Homo sapiens: one gene and its partners. The protein of the gene in region 1 interacts with the protein of each later gene in a biochemical or structural test. Each region holds a gene or a part of one and is shown in the gene's direction. Other genes may lie near its edges.

Region 1 (7,683 bases):
AGTGCTGCAGCGGGAACAATTGCTGATTGTTTGGTATATCTTTTCTTCTTTCTCCTCTGTGTCCTCGAATGACCACAATCAGGTTTTCTTCTTGATCCTTCAGTGAGCCAAGGAGCAGCATATAGTCCAGAGGGTCAGCCCATGGGGAGCTTTGTGTTGGATGGTCAGCAACACATGGGGATCCGGCCTGCAGGTAGGTTGGCTCATCCCGCCTCTGGGCTTCCCTGGGAAGTGCCACCTGCTCCACCAGCCTCTCCATCCACTCTACTATCCCACTGTCATGGTGGGTTTAACATTTGCCTGCTGCCTGCTCTGCCTGCTTTCTTTACATTGGGTGGGGGAAAAAATTCCTCTTTGAAAAAGTAAAGATTTTACCACAGTACCATTATACTCTGCCCCATACACATCCTTTTTCTTTTTTCTTTTTAAACCAAGGCAATAAGTGAAAAGGAATCTGAGTTTCCTTCTATTTTTTCACCATCAATTATTGCTGATTTTCCGGCCTCTTCTTGGATTTTATCTCCTTTCTAGGACCTATGAGTGGAATGGGCATGAATATGGGCATGGATGGGCAATGGCACTACATGTAACCTTCATCATGTAAAGCAATCGCAAAGCAAGGGGGAAGTAAGTACAGTCGGGTGCGATCTGTCTTCACTATCACTTCAGAGACTTTATTTTATTTTTTATAATTTGCCCCCATTTTATTTTTCCTTGCCCATAACTGCATGCCTTTCCAAACTAAGGACCTGTTTTTAAATATATATCACCCATCTCTGAAGTCACAGATGACACTGATGTGCACTTTTGAAAAGGCCAACTGACAAGCCTGCGTGTGTTTTAAGCAGGTGGGACTGCCTTTTAGCCTATTTACTGTGGCCCCAATGTGCACAAACACAGACATCAGGCAGATATTGGACATTTAAGAATAAAAATAATGTCTTGGGGGCACCAGTTGACTGAGAGAAATTAAGCAGGCTTCAATGAAGCGATAAAAAAAAAAAGGAAAAGTAGAACTGTCCTTTGAGTGACATAAATCTGTCAGAATACGATTGATGCCCAAATTATCTTATATGCAAAGATGAAATGCTGCAGTTCATTATGCCTAGTCTAGATATATGACAGCAGTGACACCATTGATTCTTCACTAGGGAGTCGGTGTGTTTTGATTATTTTTTACATGTGCCTACTGACTTCCGACATGAGACAGAAAGACAGGAAAGTCAGTCAATAAATTTAAAGGGAAAGACATTTAGGAGCAACTGAATATGAAGGAATGGATTTTTCACTGAGGCTGAATGGCTGCAGTTGGATTAAGAAACCCATTAGACTTTAAAGCTTCAAGTGTTTTTGACATCTGAAAAAAATTCAGAGTCTGCCAACAAGATATATCCTTTGCTGAAGACACCAGAGCATAAAAAAATTCATATAACATTGAAACTTCCTTGTTTAATGAGGCTGAATATAACAACACGTACCTTGATTAAATCATTCTCTATATGTAAATAGAGGCCAACATTTTATAGGGGAGCTCAGGGGGTCACCACGGCACACCATTGATGAAGCCAATTTCCTTCCTTCCTTCCTTTACTAATGCAGTCAAAAAATGTAGAAAGCAATGTTCCCTAAAACAGCTATAGAGAAAACATTTGCTCAGCTTGGATAGTTCTTAATATAGGCCATATAATTTCTAGCCTATTTAATTACATAACATATTTTATGCTTCATGACCAATTACATTAATAGCTTAATACAGAAGAATATTATCCTCTCTTGATTTGATTATGCAGCCACACAATATGGTATATTTGGTACTTAATTATCATCATCCATTGAGCAGGCTGCTGTGGTAGAATAAACAGAGAGCTGGGACTATGCAGGCTGTGTTATTGTCTTTAGATGGTTTTGCCACTTCTGTTAATAATGGACTGCGGATCTACTTAACAAAATGACTGCAGCATATAAGCCTTTAGATTACCAGCTTACAGTGTCAAAAACATCTGTTCAGCTTTTCAACTGTATGCACTGGAGGTTAAATAGAGGTGAATAAAGCTGTCCTTTTAGATCCGGGGATGTGCAACAGTAAATATAACCTTAATTCAATAAACAGGTAACTTGTAAGAGAAATCAGAATCCTTACAATTGCTGACTTCCCACCATTTAACTCATAACTTTGAATGTTGCATATCTCAATTGAGAATTTCTACATTTATTACATTTTATTCCTAATATCAAGGCATTATTTGGGGGGATTTTCAGAGATAAACTACCGGGCATGTCATATGACCTCACATTGACTTCTTACCTTTGACCTTTACAATCTCTTGGGTGTACTGCTATAGGAATGCCTCTAATTCAAAAAGGGGGCTTCATTTTAAATACACGTAAAAGCTCATTTCTTCAAAATGAATATGCTGTAATGTTTTGTGTAATAAATTTTTCATGAGGAAATATAGATATGATAAGATGTCAATTTTATTTTATTCTACTATCTACAATTTTTGTCCAGGTCTACAAATGCAACACAGAAAAATAAATGATCTATCAACAGTTAACTGATAAAACTCGACTCAAAATTTATATTCTTATTGCATTTATCAAAGAAATGTACTGAATACCATTTTGAAAAACAGTTCCACTTTATGACATTTAGTTGCATTAAATATTTAGTTCTGTTGTGTTGCATTATACTGCTGTGCGATGAAATTAAATGCAAACTACAATTTGAATGTCTGCAAACATTGGCAAGAATCTGCAGCTAAATTTAGGTATAAGATTTGCAGTGTCTGTTGTTTTTTTTTTTTTTTTCTTTTCATCTTTGATGGGTAAAGTATAAAAATGTTTAGGAATTTGACCCGCTTTCTTTTTCCCTCTCTATTTTCAGGTTTGCAGAGCATGCCAGGGGACTACGTTTCTCAGGGTGGTCCTATGGGAATGAGTATGGCACAGCCAAGTTACACTCCTCCCCAGATGACCCCACACCCTACTCAATTAAGACATGGACCCCCAATGCATTCATATTTGCCAAGCCATCCCCACCACCCAGCCATGATGATGCACGGAGGACCCCCTACCCACCCTGGAATGACTATGTCAGCACAGAGCCCCACAATGTTAAATTCTGTAGATCCCAATGTTGGCGGACAGGTTATGGACATTCATGCCCAATAGTATAAGGGAACTCAAGGGAAAAGGAAACACACGCAAAAACTATTTTAAGACTTTCTGAACTTTGACCAGATGTTGACACTTAATATGAAATTCCAGACAGCTGTGATTATTTTTTACTTTTGTCATTTTTCATCAAGCAACAGAGGACCAATGCAACAAGAACACAAATGTGAAATCATGGGCTGACTGAGACAATTCTGTCCATGTAAAGATCCTCTGGAAAAAGACTCCGAGAGTTATAACTACTGTAGTATAAATATAGGAACTAAGTTAAACTTGTACATTTCTGTTGATCACGCCGTTATGTTGCCTCAAATAGTTTTAGAAGAGAAAAAAAAATATATCCTTGTTTTCCACACTATGTGTGTTGTTCCCAAAAGAATGACTGTTTTGGTTCATCAGTGAATTCACCATCCAGGAGAGACTGTGGTATATATTTTAAACCTGTTGGGCCAATGAGAAAAGAACCACACTGGAGATCATGATGAACTTTTGGCTGAACCTCATCACTCGAACTCCAGCTTCAAGAATGTGTTTTCATGCCCGGCCTTTGTTCCTCCATAAATGTGTCCTTTAGTTTCAAACAGATCTTTATAGTTCGTGCTTCATAAGCCAATTCTTATTATTATTTTTGGGGGACTCTTCTTCAAAGAGCTTGCCAATGAAGATTTAAAGACAGAGCAGGAGCTTCTTCCAGGAGTTCTGAGCCTTGGTTGTGGACAAAACAATCTTAAGTTGGGCAGCTTTCCTCAACACAAAAAAAAGTTATTAATGGTCATTGAACCATAACTAGGACTTTATCAGAAACTCAAAGCTTGGGGGATAAAAAGGAGCAAGAGAATACTGTAACAAACTTCGTACAGAGTTCGGTCTATTAATTGTTTCATGTTAGATATTCTATGTGTTTACCTCAATTGAAAAAAAAAAGAATGTTTTTGCTAGTATCAGATCTGCTGTGGAATTGGTATTGTATGTCCATGAATTCTTCTTTTCTCAGCACGTGTTCCTCACTAGAAGAAAATGCTGTTACCTTTAAGCTTTGTCAAATTTACATTAAAATACTTGTATGAGGACTGTGACGTTATGTTAAAAAAAAAAAGGTGTTAAGTCACAAAAAGCGGTAATAAATATTTCATTTTTGATTTTTTGTTAGGCTTTTGCGTTTTTAATGGTTTTAGGACAAGACTGCACAATGCCAACTCTATACAGTGTTAAAAGTAGGTTTTTCCCCCCAGCAGTTGAGTATATTTTAAACTCATCAATAATTTTTAAGGTAATCATCTATAGCCTTTCAATGTCTATTTGACCTATAAGTTCCACCAGCAGAAAACTTCTAAAGGTACGAAACTATGTGTACATGATGAGCCAGGTTGAAAGATCCCCTTGAACATGCTCAACCTCCTTTTTAGATGCATGACGTTAAAAAATATATACTTTCAGATAAAGCTTTTCATGGGCATCCTCTGCCAGAATAAAGGACTTTTCAGGGTTAATTTTACAACATAAGAAATAATGTCTGTGCTCAAAGGTAATTTATCTGCCTGTGTTTTTCCTCTGCCTGTCTTACTACAATATTGTTGGATATGTAAATGAAAATTTACATATGGGTGTTCATAGATAAGTAAACAACTTCTATGGAGTTTGAAATTCTGACTTTAAAAGATTACTTAATCATTAATATTTTATAAATTATATTGTGGTATATTTTTATTTCAGACACATCCATGTGCAGGGATGCTAGTGTGATGATTTGATAACTAAACTTAAACTTTTTTCTGAAAACAAAACAAAACAAAATGGACGGTATAATGCCATTTTCAAAATTTTATGCAACATTCCTGGAAATCTATACCATTAGCTTATTGATACTGCACAAACAATGTCTGCTAAAGTGTGCAAAAAGGGTGAGGCATGTCCCCTCAATTTTCAAATAAATATACTATCCTGGAATTTTTTAACTCTTAAATTTTGAATCTTTGTTTAGAAAGAATAATGTCATATACTTTGGCTAGATATGTGATGTCAACCGGCTAAGGAAATTATTCATCATCTCTGCAAACTTAAACTTGGAAGAAATCCATAGTTATTATTTGGGGCTCTTCCATCTTTCCATTTCAGACAGCATTTATGGAGGTTCTATATAAATGAACGAGGAAATACACTTCTATTGTTTTGTGTTATATTTAGTCAGGTAGAATTTTTACAAATACATTTCAGTTTAAGTGTTGTGTTGCTGTTTAAACATAGAAATAATGCTTCTGACACAAACTAACTTAATAGAGAAATTCAGTGCCACTTGGGAAAGAGAGATAGCTTCCCTCTCATTTTTGCTATTCTATTTTACATGAAGTCTTTTTGTAAATTTTAAATATTTGCCTATTTTTACTTTAAATACTTTTATGTAAACTATGAAAATTCCCCATTATAAATCAACTCTCACATCAGGTGGGAAAAAGAACCTTTTTTTCTTTCCACTCAGTAAATTCTGAAGGGTTTCCTTGGCAATTGGCTCGTGTTTAGGATGTGTTTTATGCAATTATCAAGTTATCTCATTGAAGTTTAGAGACCAGAGCTCTCAACTCTTGGTTTTAATGAATAAAGTCATCTCATGCTTAGTTTATTCGTCAAACCCACGTCCTATCATGTTAACTTTAACCTTCTTAAATATTTGGAGATGAATGATAATTGTAATATTTGTTTGCATTACCTTGCTCTCCCCCACCCCCAACCCCATGATAACACAGAGAAGTGATAGATTTGTCCAATTTTTATAATGCTTTTTTTACACCACCCCGGAAGGCACTTGCTCCTATCTCGGGTTTACTATTTAGTGTAAAGAGTTCCGATTTGGGTATATTTAAGAAAGACTCAGCTGTCAAAAGCAAAGAAACTGGGAATGGTGTTTTGACAACCATATAGTGTTAAAGGAAATACTGTAGTCTGAATAAAATTGCTTATGTTCTCCAAAACAAGAGTAATATAAAAACACTTTTTTATTTATATGAAAAAGCAAAAGCAGAAATAAATTCCAAAGGTTTCCCTTTCTTTAAGAAATTCTGAGAGAACTGCAGTCGCCATCTGTTAAGGGTTGGGAATTGAGCAAGAAGCCACATTTTAAACGAAAAAGAGAGAAAAGACCAGGAAAGTCTGTGTCTTCCGTCCACCCCTCCTCTCTTCCACCCCCTAGGTCAGCACCCCTCACGCCCCTCAGCTCTCACCCTCGTTAGAGTCCACCAGGATCCTCCTGCCTCCTCACCCCCTCCCGCCCCCGCGGGCCTGTTAACCCGGAGCAGATTTGGGAAGGGAAATGTGGCTAATATCTCTAGCAGCTGTCAAAGGAGGGACCTTCCTTCAAAGGGACTGGACAGGGATCCTCCACAAGTTCTCCATTAGCTAGCAGGCCAGCAATTTGATAAGGAGCCTGGACCTCCGCTACAAGTTGCCACTCAGTTAGAAAGTCCGGTGTCCGGGTGTCTGGATGCGCGGAGTGACCCCAGCTTCGCGGCCGCAGCCCCCGCCGCCCACCCAGCGGGGTTGGTGCAGACGTGCGTCCTGGAGCCTAGGAGGAGGCAGGACAGAGGCTTGGGCCGCGGCAGAGGGGCGTGCAGAGGGCTACCCTGGCCCTCACCTGGCCTTCCCTGGGCGCGTGTGTTAGAGTTAGACCAACGTATTGCAAACTATGGGGGCACGGGGGGCCCGTCCCAGTTACAGTTGCAGTCATCAACTCAGGGCGTCGCGCGCCGGGGCGGGCCCCCTCCGTCGGGGCCGGGGCTGGGAGAAAGTGCCGCGCGGGGGAAATGCTGGTCTGATGGGGGAGGCCGGTCAGATTGTGATGAGAATGGAGACCGTCGGGGCAGTGTTTGAAGGGAGGTTTTAATATTAATAGTTTCGGTGTAGAGACAGAAGGGAGATTGCGTCTACGGCTCCTCCGGGCAGACTCTGGGTGACAGGAATGATGGATGATCCGGCAGAGCCCAACAGCTCCTCCCCCCCCAGCCCCAACAGTGTCAAAGCTACTTTAGTTGAAGCTTTAGAAATAAACAGCATCGCCACCCCCCCATACTCTTAGTACACCTCCACCCTCTCCCCCCGCTTTCCGACATCGATTTATGGATCATTATGAATCAATTACTGCCCTCAATACCTTCCCATTGGCTTAAATAAAACAGTTGAAAGATGAAAACGTGGGGTTCTGTGGAGATTTTTTTCCCTGACAAGAACAATCGCAAAATCCATTATCTCATAATCCGAGGCGCTGGGTGAGGAGGTGAAGAGAAAGGACGGGGTCACCCAGTAAATAACTGGGGGGAACGCAGGAAGGGGGGTGTCGCCCAGATGCTGCCTTTGTTTTCTTTCAGATGGGTTTGGTTGGTTGGTTTGTTTGGTGTTTGGGGAGCGGGGTAAACTCGCGTGAGAATTAGATGCCTACAAGTTTTGTGACCTAATTATTTAACTCCTTTGGAGAGACCCCTTTGAATATGTGTCTCGTCAAACATCAGATGTTGTTGGTAG
Region 2 (7,399 bases), on another chromosome or scaffold:
GATTTGTTGAAAAGCATCATTTTGACATCCTCCTCTTCGCAGTGCATAAATCACCCACAGTAGAGCTTAAAAGACACACTAAATTGGGAAACAAAGGTGCTTTTGTGTTGGGTTTACATTCTCAGCATGATCTAATACCTGATTGCATTTACATTTGTGTTCTTGAGGTTTGTGGGGGAGATTTTTATAGAACAAAATAGAAGGCTTTGTTTCACCGTAGCTTCAAATAAGAAAATAGGAAAAACTCCAAACCTCTAGCAAAACTGTAAGTTCCTCTGAAATTCACACTCTGTGCAAAGTGAAACACTGAGATTTCAGCTCCATTTTACTCTTTCCTGTTCTCTCAGCAATGACGTTCAAAAGCCAGTGACCTATGTCTGTTAGGAAGGAATCTCAGGCAGTGAGTTATAGAATGATAGACAAACTGGTCCAACCCTCTGGTTTTCCTGGTGATCTTAAACAAAATCACCTCCTTGGTTATTCTCAGGTTCTCTCCTTCTCTACCTGTTAGTCGTTTTTGCTTTGCTGGCTGGGTTTCTGAGCCTTTTTTGTATGTTATGATGTCTAGTCTGTTTTCTGCTACTGTAACAGAATACCACCAACTGGGTAAATTATAAACAATGTAAGTTTATTTGGCTCATAGTTCCTGGAGGCTGGGAAGTCTCAGATCGTGGGGTGGCATCATAACTTGGCAGAAGAAGAGACTACACAAGAGGCAGGGAGGGAATGGAGGCTGAACTTATCCTTTTATCAGGAGCTCTCTCCAGCAGTAACTAACCCACTCCAGAGATAACGAGATAATGGCATTAGTCCACCCAGGAGGGCAGAACCCTTTGGCCTAATCACCTCTTAAAGGTCCCAACTCTTAATCCTGTCACAATGGCAATTAAATTTCAACATGAGTTTTGGCAGAGACATTCAAACCATAGCATATGGGTAGGGAGGAGATTTAATATTGAAATGACAGAAATTTACTTGTGGTCAAGAAATAGCTCTCAATCACTACCAAAATGGTATGTGTTGATTTGATCACCTGGACTTGTCAGATAAATGGGTTGAGAGAAAAAGATAAAGGTCAGTATGGGCTAGTTTGAAATAATTTAGGTGATTTTTCAAGCAAAACAAAAAGGTTTTTTGAGCAGCTGGTGGGCTTGAGAGAAATGAGAATATGAAGTATGTTATGAATGTTCCTTTGAACAAAATTTTGATTAATATTTAAATGTTGTGTCAAATATTTTCCCACTGTTAAACTGCTGTTTTCTTGAGCATGATACCACCTGAAGCCCAGGTGTTGTGCTGTGTTTGTCATCCTTGTTTTTTAATTACAAGAGCAGTGGCATTGTTGTTGGCTCTGAGAAGACTTGGGAATTGGGGGCACTTCTGAAAGGCAGTCATTAGACAGAAATTTTATCCCTCAAATTGGCCTTATCCTTACCTCCAGAGTCTGCTATCTCGATTTTGGGGTGGCAGGGCAGGTAGTGTGTTCTTTTGAGGTTACTTCCTGAAGTACATTTTCTTGCCATATGGAATATTCCTATGGAGTCCTGCTTTGCCCAGTCCAATTCCACTGGCTCATTATCCCACAGATCAGGATCCTACCCGTTCCTGCTTTCCAAGGTTAATGCTGAATTTCTCCTACCTATTTTATTTCTGGGTAGTTTCAGTGGAAAATTGCAGATGCCAGGGTAGAATGTCAGGAGTTAAATGCTCAGGCTTACATGACAAGTCTCGAACCAGAAACATATCTTTAATTTGTGTTTATTAGTAAAAGGGAAAGAAAGAAAATGAAACAAAGTCAAGAAGTTTGGAGAATGACGGCCTTGGGGAAAGTGATCTGAAAGTGTTACGTTAAGCGTGACTTAGGGCTCTACAGAAATGCAGTTCTTGGGGAATGTGTGTGGCAACAATTGCGTCTCTGACCCCCAGTCTGTTGGACGCTGTGTGTGACGGCGAGGCCATGGGTGGGAGGAGACAGCTGTAAGCACAGGCACCGGAGGGTCTGTGCCAGCAATATGGTCCTTTCATCTTAAGCCAAGGTGCCAAAGGCCGGGCGCGATGGCTCACGCTTGTAATCCCAGCACTTGGGGAGGCCAAGGCCGGTGGATCACCTGAGGTCAGGAGTTCAAGACCAGGCTGGCCAACATGGTGAAACCCCATCTCTACTAAAAATACAAAAAATTAGCCGGATGTGGTGGCAGACATCTGTAATCCCAGCTACTTGGGCGGCTGAGGCAGGAGAAGCGCTTGAACCCTGGAGACGGAGGTTGCAGTGAGCTAAGATAGCACCATTACACTCCAGCCTGGGCGACAGAGCAAGACTCTGTCTCTAAATAAACAAACAACCAAAGTACAGTTTGTGCTGGCGAACTAAATGGAATTATTACTTTGGTTTAGGGTTTTTTTTTTTTTTCCCAGAGAAAATTCTTGCTTCTGATATGGTGCATGGCTGTTGTGGAGATTGGACTGTTAGTTTTTTTTTTTTTTTTTTTTTGAGACGGGGTCTCGCTCTGTCGCCCAGGCTGGGGTGCAGTGGCGCGATCTCGGCTCACTGCAAGCTCCGTCTACCGGGTTCACGCCATTCTCCTGCCTCAGCCTCCCGAGTAGCTGGGACTACAGGTGCCTGCCACCACGCCCGGCTAATTTTGTTTTGTATTTTTGCCGTTTTAGCCAGGATGGTCTCGATCTCCTGACCTCATGATCCGCCCTCCTCGGCCTCCCAAAGTGCTGGGATTACAGGCGTGAGCCACCGCGCTTGGCCTGGACTGTTGGTTTGTTAATGGGTCCCAGGGGTTCCTGCCTATGGAGGGCTGACGGGGTCCTAGGTTTGGTGCCAAGCCCTCTGGAAACACCGTCTCAGTTAATAGTTATGACAATCCTGTTATGTCCTCACCGTTTCACAGAGGAAGAACCCGAGCTCAGAGAGGAGAGAGTGCACATGCAGCCGACAGTGGCAGGGCAGGACCAGGAAGTCAGGCAGTGTGACTTGGGGGATCCATGCTTATTCTCCTCCCACCTTTCGGAAGGCACAGGAAGGCACCACAGTGTCGCAATTTATGCACAATTAGTGCAAAGTCTCACCTGTGAGCTTGCCTGGGGCAACCAGGGGAGGCTGGGGGCTCCTTCTCCACCAGGCCCCGCTGCCTCCATATGACTCTTCCCTGTATTTTAGCCCTGTAGGTAATTTTCCAGTTTGTGGGCTCCTGTACCACATGCGGTGAGTTAAAAGAACAGGTGGGCAGCGGCGCGGCTCCCGCGTGAGCTGTGTGACTTTGAGCAGGCCCCACTACCTTTCCGAGCCGCATTTCCACCTGGGCGAAGCGGGTTGAGCCGGCCTGGCGGGGAAAGATTCTTTTAACGGGGGAACAACGTAAGGCGTGCACCGGGGAACACGGATGCTGCTGAGTCAATGCCCGCTCTGCCGTTCTCTTTGAGAGTAAGGCTTGCGTCTCGCCTGCTCTAGCGCCCCAGGTTTGAACGCAGTGGGCGCGCAGGAGGAAACATAGATTCACGAATGCAATGCCAGCAAAGTAAAATTTTTCACCCTTGTCCGTTTTTCAGGGTGTTTCAAGCGGAGGAGTCCTGAGTGGAGAAGATTCCGCTTCCCTGTTTTCAGGTTCTGGCAGTCATGGACCGGGAAGAGCGAGTCGGGGCGCGGGTCCCTGGCGGTCGCTGGAACCCTTGTGAGTGAGGTTGGTGCCCGCGAGGGCACAGCGGGCGCTCGGGAAGTCGCAGCCGCCGGCAGAGGGCGCCCCGGGCACACGGAGCGCGCGGCGCTGGGGTTGGGGCGCTCGGGAGGTGCGGGGCACCGGCTGGAGTCCGGCGTTGACCGCAGCCGGGACGCGCCCGCCACCTGGGCGGGGAAGGAGTGAGTCCCCTCGGGGCGCAGCGGCGCGCGCTGGCCCGGATCCCAGCTGCGCCGCGCCCTCCCTGCGAGCGGTGAGTACAGGCGCCCACGGGCATCTCCAACCCTAGTTAGGGGACACTTGGAGACAACGCAGGTCGGACGTCCGCCGGCCGTTCTAGGAGTTGGTGTGCGGGGAATGGGGGGTGCTCCCGCTCGCTTAGGGCTTTGGGTCCGGCTAGGGGTTGACCCCAAGAGGCGCTGGATGTCGGGGCTGAGCTTTGCTTTCAGGGGACTCAAGCTTACTTGAGGTTCTGACATTGGATTTGCCTCGCGGGCCCTGCGCGTGCTGCGCGGGGATCCGGAGACTGGCGAGGTAACCAGGGAGGGCAAGCACTCACCGGGGCGTCCTCCGCCCACCTCGCCCGCAGAACCATCCAGGGGGACCACGTGCGGCTGTCGCCCGCAACTCTGCCTGTCAAGCGAGGACCGCCCCCAGGGCAGGGGAGGGGACGCGCGGGCGGGGTGGGCTGTGCCCCGCGGGAACCCCGCCGGCCTGTGCGCTTGCTGGTGCCAGCTCGGCTCGCTGCCTCGCATTGCCACAGGCTCCTGAGAGGTCGCGGGCAGTGCCTGCGGGGAGGCGCGGGGCCCTGCTCTGTAGGGCTGAAGGCCGCCCGAGGTTCGCCAAGGCTCTGGGCTCTCGAAAGGAAGCCAAGAAAAGAAGCTGCCCAGGTGACCAGTCCTGGGAGTGCTCTCTCCCAAGGAAGCTCCGAGCGCCCAGGAGCCCTTAGCCGGGGTCTAGTGCCCTTTGAACAATCTCCAGCTCTTCAAGGAAGTGGGCTGCCGCCGCCTCTCTTGGGACCTGGCCTGGGATCCTTTCCCCAAACGCACCCCGGCGATTTTTGCGCACCGGGAGCCGAACCCCTGCTGCGCGCAGCTGGCTGGGCTCAGGCGCGCTTCCTCAACGTTTCGGAGCCGCTGCCCCCAGCGAAGTCCACATTCCAAGCTCCAGGGGCTTTGAGAGAGACGACCCCAAGGCAAGGTAGGTGGCTCGGACGGGCTCGCCCTGGGAATTATTAGGTTGGGCTTGACGTGAGTAATGATGCCATCTGCTTAAGTCTTGGAGAAAGACCGTGTGTTTTCCTTTTGCTTTTTAAGGCGTTTGGAGAGCTGCTGAGGAGCCAGGGGCTTGGAGGAGCGAGAAGACATGTATTTTCAGCTGAGTCTCAGAAGGGGAGAATCTCCTGTCACCACCAGAAAAGCAACAGCCCCGAAATGTGATTGCAACTGACTAGCAGAGCAGAGGCCCAGGAGTCACTGGATTGATGATTTAGAATATGCTAAAAAGCCAGTGCTTTATTTGGGGAATTCAGGGGCTTTCTGGTGCCCAAGACAGTGACCTGCAGCAAGGGAGTCAGAAGACAGATGTAGAAATCAAGAGTGACCATCCACGGGATTGACTTGGATTGCCACTCAAGCGGTCCTCTCATGGAATGTTGGTGAGGCCCTCTGCCAGGGAAGCAATCTGGCTGTGCAAAGTGCTGCCTGGTGGGGAGGACTCCTGGAAATCTGACTGACCCCTATTCCCTGCTTGGGAACTTGAGGGGTGTCAGAGCCCCTGATGTGCTTTCTCTTAGGAAGATGAGGACTCTGAACACCTCTGCCATGGACGGGACTGGGCTGGTGGTGGAGAGGGACTTCTCTGTTCGTATCCTCACTGCCTGTTTCCTGTCGCTGCTCATCCTGTCCACGCTCCTGGGGAACACGCTGGTCTGTGCTGCCGTTATCAGGTTCCGACACCTGCGGTCCAAGGTGACCAACTTCTTTGTCATCTCCTTGGCTGTGTCAGATCTCTTGGTGGCCGTCCTGGTCATGCCCTGGAAGGCAGTGGCTGAGATTGCTGGCTTCTGGCCCTTTGGGTCCTTCTGTAACATCTGGGTGGCCTTTGACATCATGTGCTCCACTGCATCCATCCTCAACCTCTGTGTGATCAGCGTGGACAGGTATTGGGCTATCTCCAGCCCTTTCCGGTATGAGAGAAAGATGACCCCCAAGGCAGCCTTCATCCTGATCAGTGTGGCATGGACCTTGTCTGTACTCATCTCCTTCATCCCAGTGCAGCTCAGCTGGCACAAGGCAAAACCCACAAGCCCCTCTGATGGAAATGCCACTTCCCTGGCTGAGACCATAGACAACTGTGACTCCAGCCTCAGCAGGACATATGCCATCTCATCCTCTGTAATAAGCTTTTACATCCCTGTGGCCATCATGATTGTCACCTACACCAGGATCTACAGGATTGCTCAGAAACAAATACGGCGCATTGCGGCCTTGGAGAGGGCAGCAGTCCACGCCAAGAATTGCCAGACCACCACAGGTAATGGAAAGCCTGTCGAATGTTCTCAACCGGAAAGTTCTTTTAAGATGTCCTTCAAAAGAGAAACTAAAGTCCTGAAGACTCTGTCGGTGATCATGGGTGTGTTTGTGTGCTGTTGGCTACCTTTCTTCATCTTGAACTGCATTTTGCCCTTCTGTGGGTCTGGGGAGACGCAGCCCTTCTGCATTGATTCCAACACCTTTGACGTGTTTGTGTGGTTTGGGTGGGCTAATTCATCCTTGAACCCCATCATTTATGCCTTTAATGCTGATTTTCGGAAGGCATTTTCAACCCTCTTAGGATGCTACAGACTTTGCCCTGCGACGAATAATGCCATAGAGACGGTGAGTATCAATAACAATGGGGCCGCGATGTTTTCCAGCCATCATGAGCCACGAGGCTCCATCTCCAAGGAGTGCAATCTGGTTTACCTGATCCCACATGCTGTGGGCTCCTCTGAGGACCTGAAAAAGGAGGAGGCAGCTGGCATCGCCAGACCCTTGGAGAAGCTGTCCCCAGCCCTATCAGTCATATTGGACTATGACACTGACGTCTCTCTGGAGAAGATCCAACCCATCACACAAAACGGTCAGCACCCAACCTGAACTCGCAGATGAATCCTGCCACACATGCTCATCCCAAAAGCTAGAGGAGATTGCTCTGGGGCTTGCTATTAAGAAACTAAGGTACGGTGAGACTCTGAGGTGTCAGGAGAGCCCTCTGCTGCTTTCCAACACACAATTAACTCCGTTTCCAAATACATTCCAGTGTATTTTCTGTGTTGTTCATAGTCAATCAAACAGGGACACTACAAACATGGGGAGCCATAAGGGACATGTCTTTGGCTTCAGAATTGTTTTTAGAAATTTATTCTTATCTTAGGATTTACCAAATAGGGCAAAGAATCAACAGTGAACAGCTTCACTTAAAATCAAATTTTTCTGGGAAGAAAATGAGATGGGTTGAGTTTGCTGTATACAAACAGGTGCTAACACTGTTCCCAGCAAAGTTTTCAGATTGTAAAGGTAGGTGCATGCCTTCATAAATTATTTCTAAAACATTAATTGAGGCTTACAGTAGGAGTGAGAAATTTTTTTCCAGAATTGAGAGATGTTTTGTTGATATTGGTTCTATTTATTTATTGTATATATGGATATTTTTAATTTATGATATAATAAATA
Region 3 (3,990 bases), on another chromosome or scaffold:
GCCGCCCTGGCCAAGGCGCTCAAAATGACCGATGCGCAGGTCAAAACCTGGTTCCAGAACCGGCGGACAAAGTGGAGGTGAGCAAGCGGGGCGGGCCGGCCGCCCGCGAGCGGCGCGGTCTCAGGCAGCTCTCGGTTCATTGGCCTCTCGTGGGGCGCACATACTTTTTCCGCTCGCGGTTTCTGATCCTTTCGGAGGAGCGAGCTCCCGCTAGGCTTGCGGGGAGCTGGAAGCAACCGAGGCCGATAGCTGGGATGGGGCTGAAGAGCCCTGGCTCTGTTTTACCGGAGGCTTCAGGGCTTTCTGGTTGGCACACTCTCTGCCGGTGTAGACGCGGCAGGTCTATTCCGCCGCTTGGGCAAACAGGCGGGTTAGTGCACTCCACGCAGTCCAGGCTCCAGGGATCTGTGAGTCCTGGGGAGCTTTTTGTTTGCGCAAACTCTTGCTTATGGAATCCTGCTCTGTCCTGGAGACTGGATGCAGAACAGCCCGCACCTTGTTGCAGCGCTCCAGCCGGGCTCCCGGCAGAGGGTCTGTGGCCCCAGACCGCGGCCCTGCTGACGGTCTCCTCCCCCAGACACCCGGCCTTTGCGCAGCCGGTCCCTACCCTGGAAGGAGAAAATCAATCCGCGCCGGCTGCGGCGGGGTTTCGCGGGTCCCACTGGAAGGGGAATCAATTAGGAGCAGATGGGTGTGTGTGAGAAAGAGAATTTTCCTTCTCCCATAGCCACAACTCTAGTTACTACGCAATGGGCTTTTTGTTTTGTTTTGTTTTTTCACATTTACGCTCACGGACGTGAAGCGTCCCCAACACTCTCGAGCAGCCTCCCTCTCCGCGCGCACTGACGCTTTCTCCGGCTGCACCCTCTGGCACGCTGCACCCTCTGGCACGCTGCACCCTCCCGCACATCTGGCCCTTGCCCGCCGGAGTTTCTCCCCTAGCTCAGGCCCCATGGGGTAGCGCGGGAGAGTCTGGGCGAAGTCGGCGGCGCCGAGACGGGCGGGCCTTGGGGCAGGAGGAAGGAATTGGAGTTTCCTCTTTTTCTGAACGAAGGCGAGGAATCTGCCTGGGATTCCGCCTACGGGGCCACAAAGGAAGCCATGGCCCCACGATTCTACCACAACATTTCTGACGCTGGGAAAGGAGTGGGGGATGCGGCCTCAGACCTTGGAACGCTAAAGAGGGAGCCAGGGCTAGCTCGGGGGTTGGGGGGACTCCGGTTTCCAAGGCCTACTGAGGGCTGCTGGCCTAGGGGAGGAGAGGCAGCCTGGCAGGCCTCCCAGAGAGAGGGGCACAGAGAAAGAAAGAGGCAGGCAAAGAGAGAAACTGAAACACAACCAGTTTCAGAGGTGGAGAGGGATAGGGACCCCGCTCAAGGAAAAAAAAGGAGAAAAACAGGCAGCCTGCAGAAGTCTTATTTATGTATAATAAAGAAAAAGCAATGGATGACTGAAACCACCATTTTCTTTTCAAACAAATTCCTTTAATTCAGAGAGAACCAAGTGGGTGGGGAGGAGAGAAAACGAGAGATAAGACACAAAGCCTAAAAGAGAAATATTCAGGCCGTTTGAAATGCAGGGGATAAGGGAAAGACGAAAGACGGAAAGATACACAGAGTCAAGAAAAGGCGGCCCAGAGCAGGTCAGCAGCCGCTGCTGGAAGAGGCCCTTGCAGGCTTCGCATGGCTTCATCGATCGCCTACAAATTGCTTCTGAAGGCCCCAGGGACTCCCATTAGGTCTGTCCACCTTAGAGACAGACGTTTGATCTCAGTTGACAGGGTGGAGGGGCGGCAGTAAATGGAATAAGTGAGTCATCGCCTCCCTGAACTGCCTCAGAGGAAGCCAGTGGGTCCAGCAGGAGCCCCGGTAGGGCACAGGGCTCCACACAGAAGGCCCAAGTCCTAGAAGACATTCGCAGAGAGAGGGAGGAAAGAGACGTCCCGCAGAGCAGATCGTACCCGCTGGTCCTTGCCTCTCTGCCCTGGACTTGTGGGTAGGGTGAGGGCCCTCTGGCTTGGAATGGCACCTGGTCTCCCTCAGGGCCGGGGAGGGGGAGGCGAGATGCCATCCTACCCCGGCTGCCCCTTGTGAGGCCTCCGGGGTGTGGGCGCTGCGCGTGGATGCGAGTCCCAGCTGTTTGGGCCTCGCAGACTTTCCCATCGCTCCTCCTCTGGGATACCTTGGCTCCATCCGCTTTGGGGTTTCCAGTCTTTGTTGGAGTCAGGACTCTCAAAAGAAGGGAACGCGTTATAGGGGCCCAAACTGGATTTGGGGACTGCAAAGGCGAGCAGCGCTCGTTCAGTTTATCTCCTGGGAACGCACCAGGAGTTGGGCACACGCGGGAGCTGGGTCGGTGCTCCTGGCAGGTAACGGCTTGTTCCCGGTGCAGACGGCAGACTGCGGAGGAACGGGAGGCCGAGAGGCAGCAAGCGAACCGCATCCTCCTGCAGTTGCAGCAGGAGGCCTTCCAGAAGAGCCTGGCACAGCCGCTGCCCGCTGACCCTCTGTGCGTGCACAACTCGTCGCTCTTCGCCCTGCAGAATCTGCAGCCGTGGTCTGACGACTCGACCAAAATCACTAGCGTCACGTCGGTGGCGTCGGCCTGCGAGTGAGCCTGCCCATTCTGCCCTGTGGGACCCCAGGCCCACTCAGGGGTCACTGAGGCCTGAGACCCAGGACTCCTCCCCACCCTCCTGGCCTCAGACTGCACCCAGGAGGGGAACACTGCCCTCGCACGGCCCCGAAGGGCCCCCACATTTGTGCCGACACTGTTCTCCCTTCGGTGGAAGAGCTCAAGGGACAAGGACACGCGCCCCCCTCCCAGAGGCGTCCCGCACCTGTCTGAACTGTTAAGAAATCTGTTTTTGTTTATTTCATTTTATTTTAATTTTTAACGTGGGATTCAGAGAAAGGCAAGGGAGGTAAGGGAGGAGGAGCTTCTGGGGTCCCCAGGGCTGTCATCTGAATTTGCCCTGGGAAACCCCTTCTCTGTGACCCACTTCTCATCACACACATGGAAACCCATAGGCCCACACACAGGTGGTGTCACTGTCCCTCCTGGTGTCACCCCAGAGCCACACATGGGCATCTATGGGAGAGTGTCAACCAGACAGAGGGTCACAGTGTTTACACTTTGGACCTTACGATCAGGCACAGGTCAGGGGTGACACAGACTCATCCTGAACAGCATGGCACTCCCTCCAGCACAAACACAAGGTCATGGCCACACTGTGACACACTACACCACACACAACAGCCAACAGCTACAACAGCCTCACTTGGTCTGCCAGGCCCCCACCACACATCCCAGCCCAATCCAGGTACGCACAGACAGGTTTTCACATAAATGCAGCCCATTTCTCCAGAACCCATTTGAGGGGTGGGGGGGTGTTAATTTATGCACTTATAAGGTGTTTTCTGTGTAACCATTTTATAAAGTGCTTGTGTAATTTATGTGAAAAAAATAAATAAAAGCCTCCGGATCCGGAGTCAGGGCTGCCTGCTCCTTGCGGACCCTAGCGTCCTTCAGCTACTTGGGTTTGGTGTGTGAGCTGATGCTTCAGGGGCAGCCCTTGGTACCTGAACTTGAGAGACATGTTGCGGGGCAGGACCCTAAGGCTCTGGAGAGAGGAAAGGAAGAGGACAGATGGAGAGAAGGCAGAGTTGAGGAGAGCAGGGAGAGCCAGGCTCTCCTGGGATTACCAGTGCCTGAGAGGATGTGGATTTCTTTGGATGTGAGAGTCGTGTGTGTGTGTGTGTGTGTGTGTGTGTGTGTGGTGTGTTTGTGATAATGTGAGCAATCAGCAATGCGAGCAAATAGTGAATATTTATAATGGTATTTAAGTGTATAATTGTGTTTGCAATTCTTGCGTGTAAATGCTTGTTTCTGCTTAAGTTGCAAATCGAAACTATCATTGTATGCACGGGCTTGTAGTGGTGTGTGTGTAACCGTATGTGAATGTGACTGTTTCTTTTTGGGTAATTGTGT

What was found. Proteins that work in one complex are often made in the same cells at the same time.
Region 2: the proteins of MEIS2 (region 1) and DRD1 form a complex in vitro, tested with the Homo sapiens proteins (one study listed by BioGRID).
Region 3: the proteins of MEIS2 (region 1) and TLX1 form a complex in vitro, tested with the Homo sapiens proteins (one study listed by BioGRID).

Annotation. Positions count from the first base shown.
Region 1 is NC_000015.10:36,887,661-36,895,343, reverse strand, and holds the end of MEIS2 (homeobox protein Meis2), read left to right. Parts: intron 1-82; coding exon 83-193; intron 194-531; coding exon of another isoform or gene 532-590; exon of another isoform or gene 591-627; intron 628-2,884; coding exon 2,885-3,171; 3' UTR 3,172-6,140; downstream 6,141-7,683. UniProt on the Homo sapiens protein: Involved in transcriptional regulation. Binds to HOX or PBX proteins to form dimers, or to a DNA-bound dimer of PBX and HOX proteins and thought to have a role in stabilization of the homeoprotein-DNA complex.
Region 2 is NC_000005.10:175,441,183-175,448,581, reverse strand, and holds the start of DRD1 (D(1A) dopamine receptor), read left to right. Parts: upstream 1-4,399; 5' UTR 4,400-4,883; intron 4,884-4,999; 5' UTR 5,000-5,482; coding exon 5,483-6,823; 3' UTR 6,824-7,399.
Region 3 is NC_000010.11:101,134,300-101,138,289, forward strand, and holds the end of TLX1 (T-cell leukemia homeobox protein 1), read left to right. Parts: coding exon 1-77; intron 78-2,368; coding exon of another isoform or gene 2,369-2,372; exon of another isoform or gene 2,373-2,391; coding exon 2,392-2,614; 3' UTR 2,615-3,490; downstream 3,491-3,990. UniProt on the Homo sapiens protein: Controls the genesis of the spleen. Binds to the DNA sequence 5'-GGCGGTAAGTGG-3'.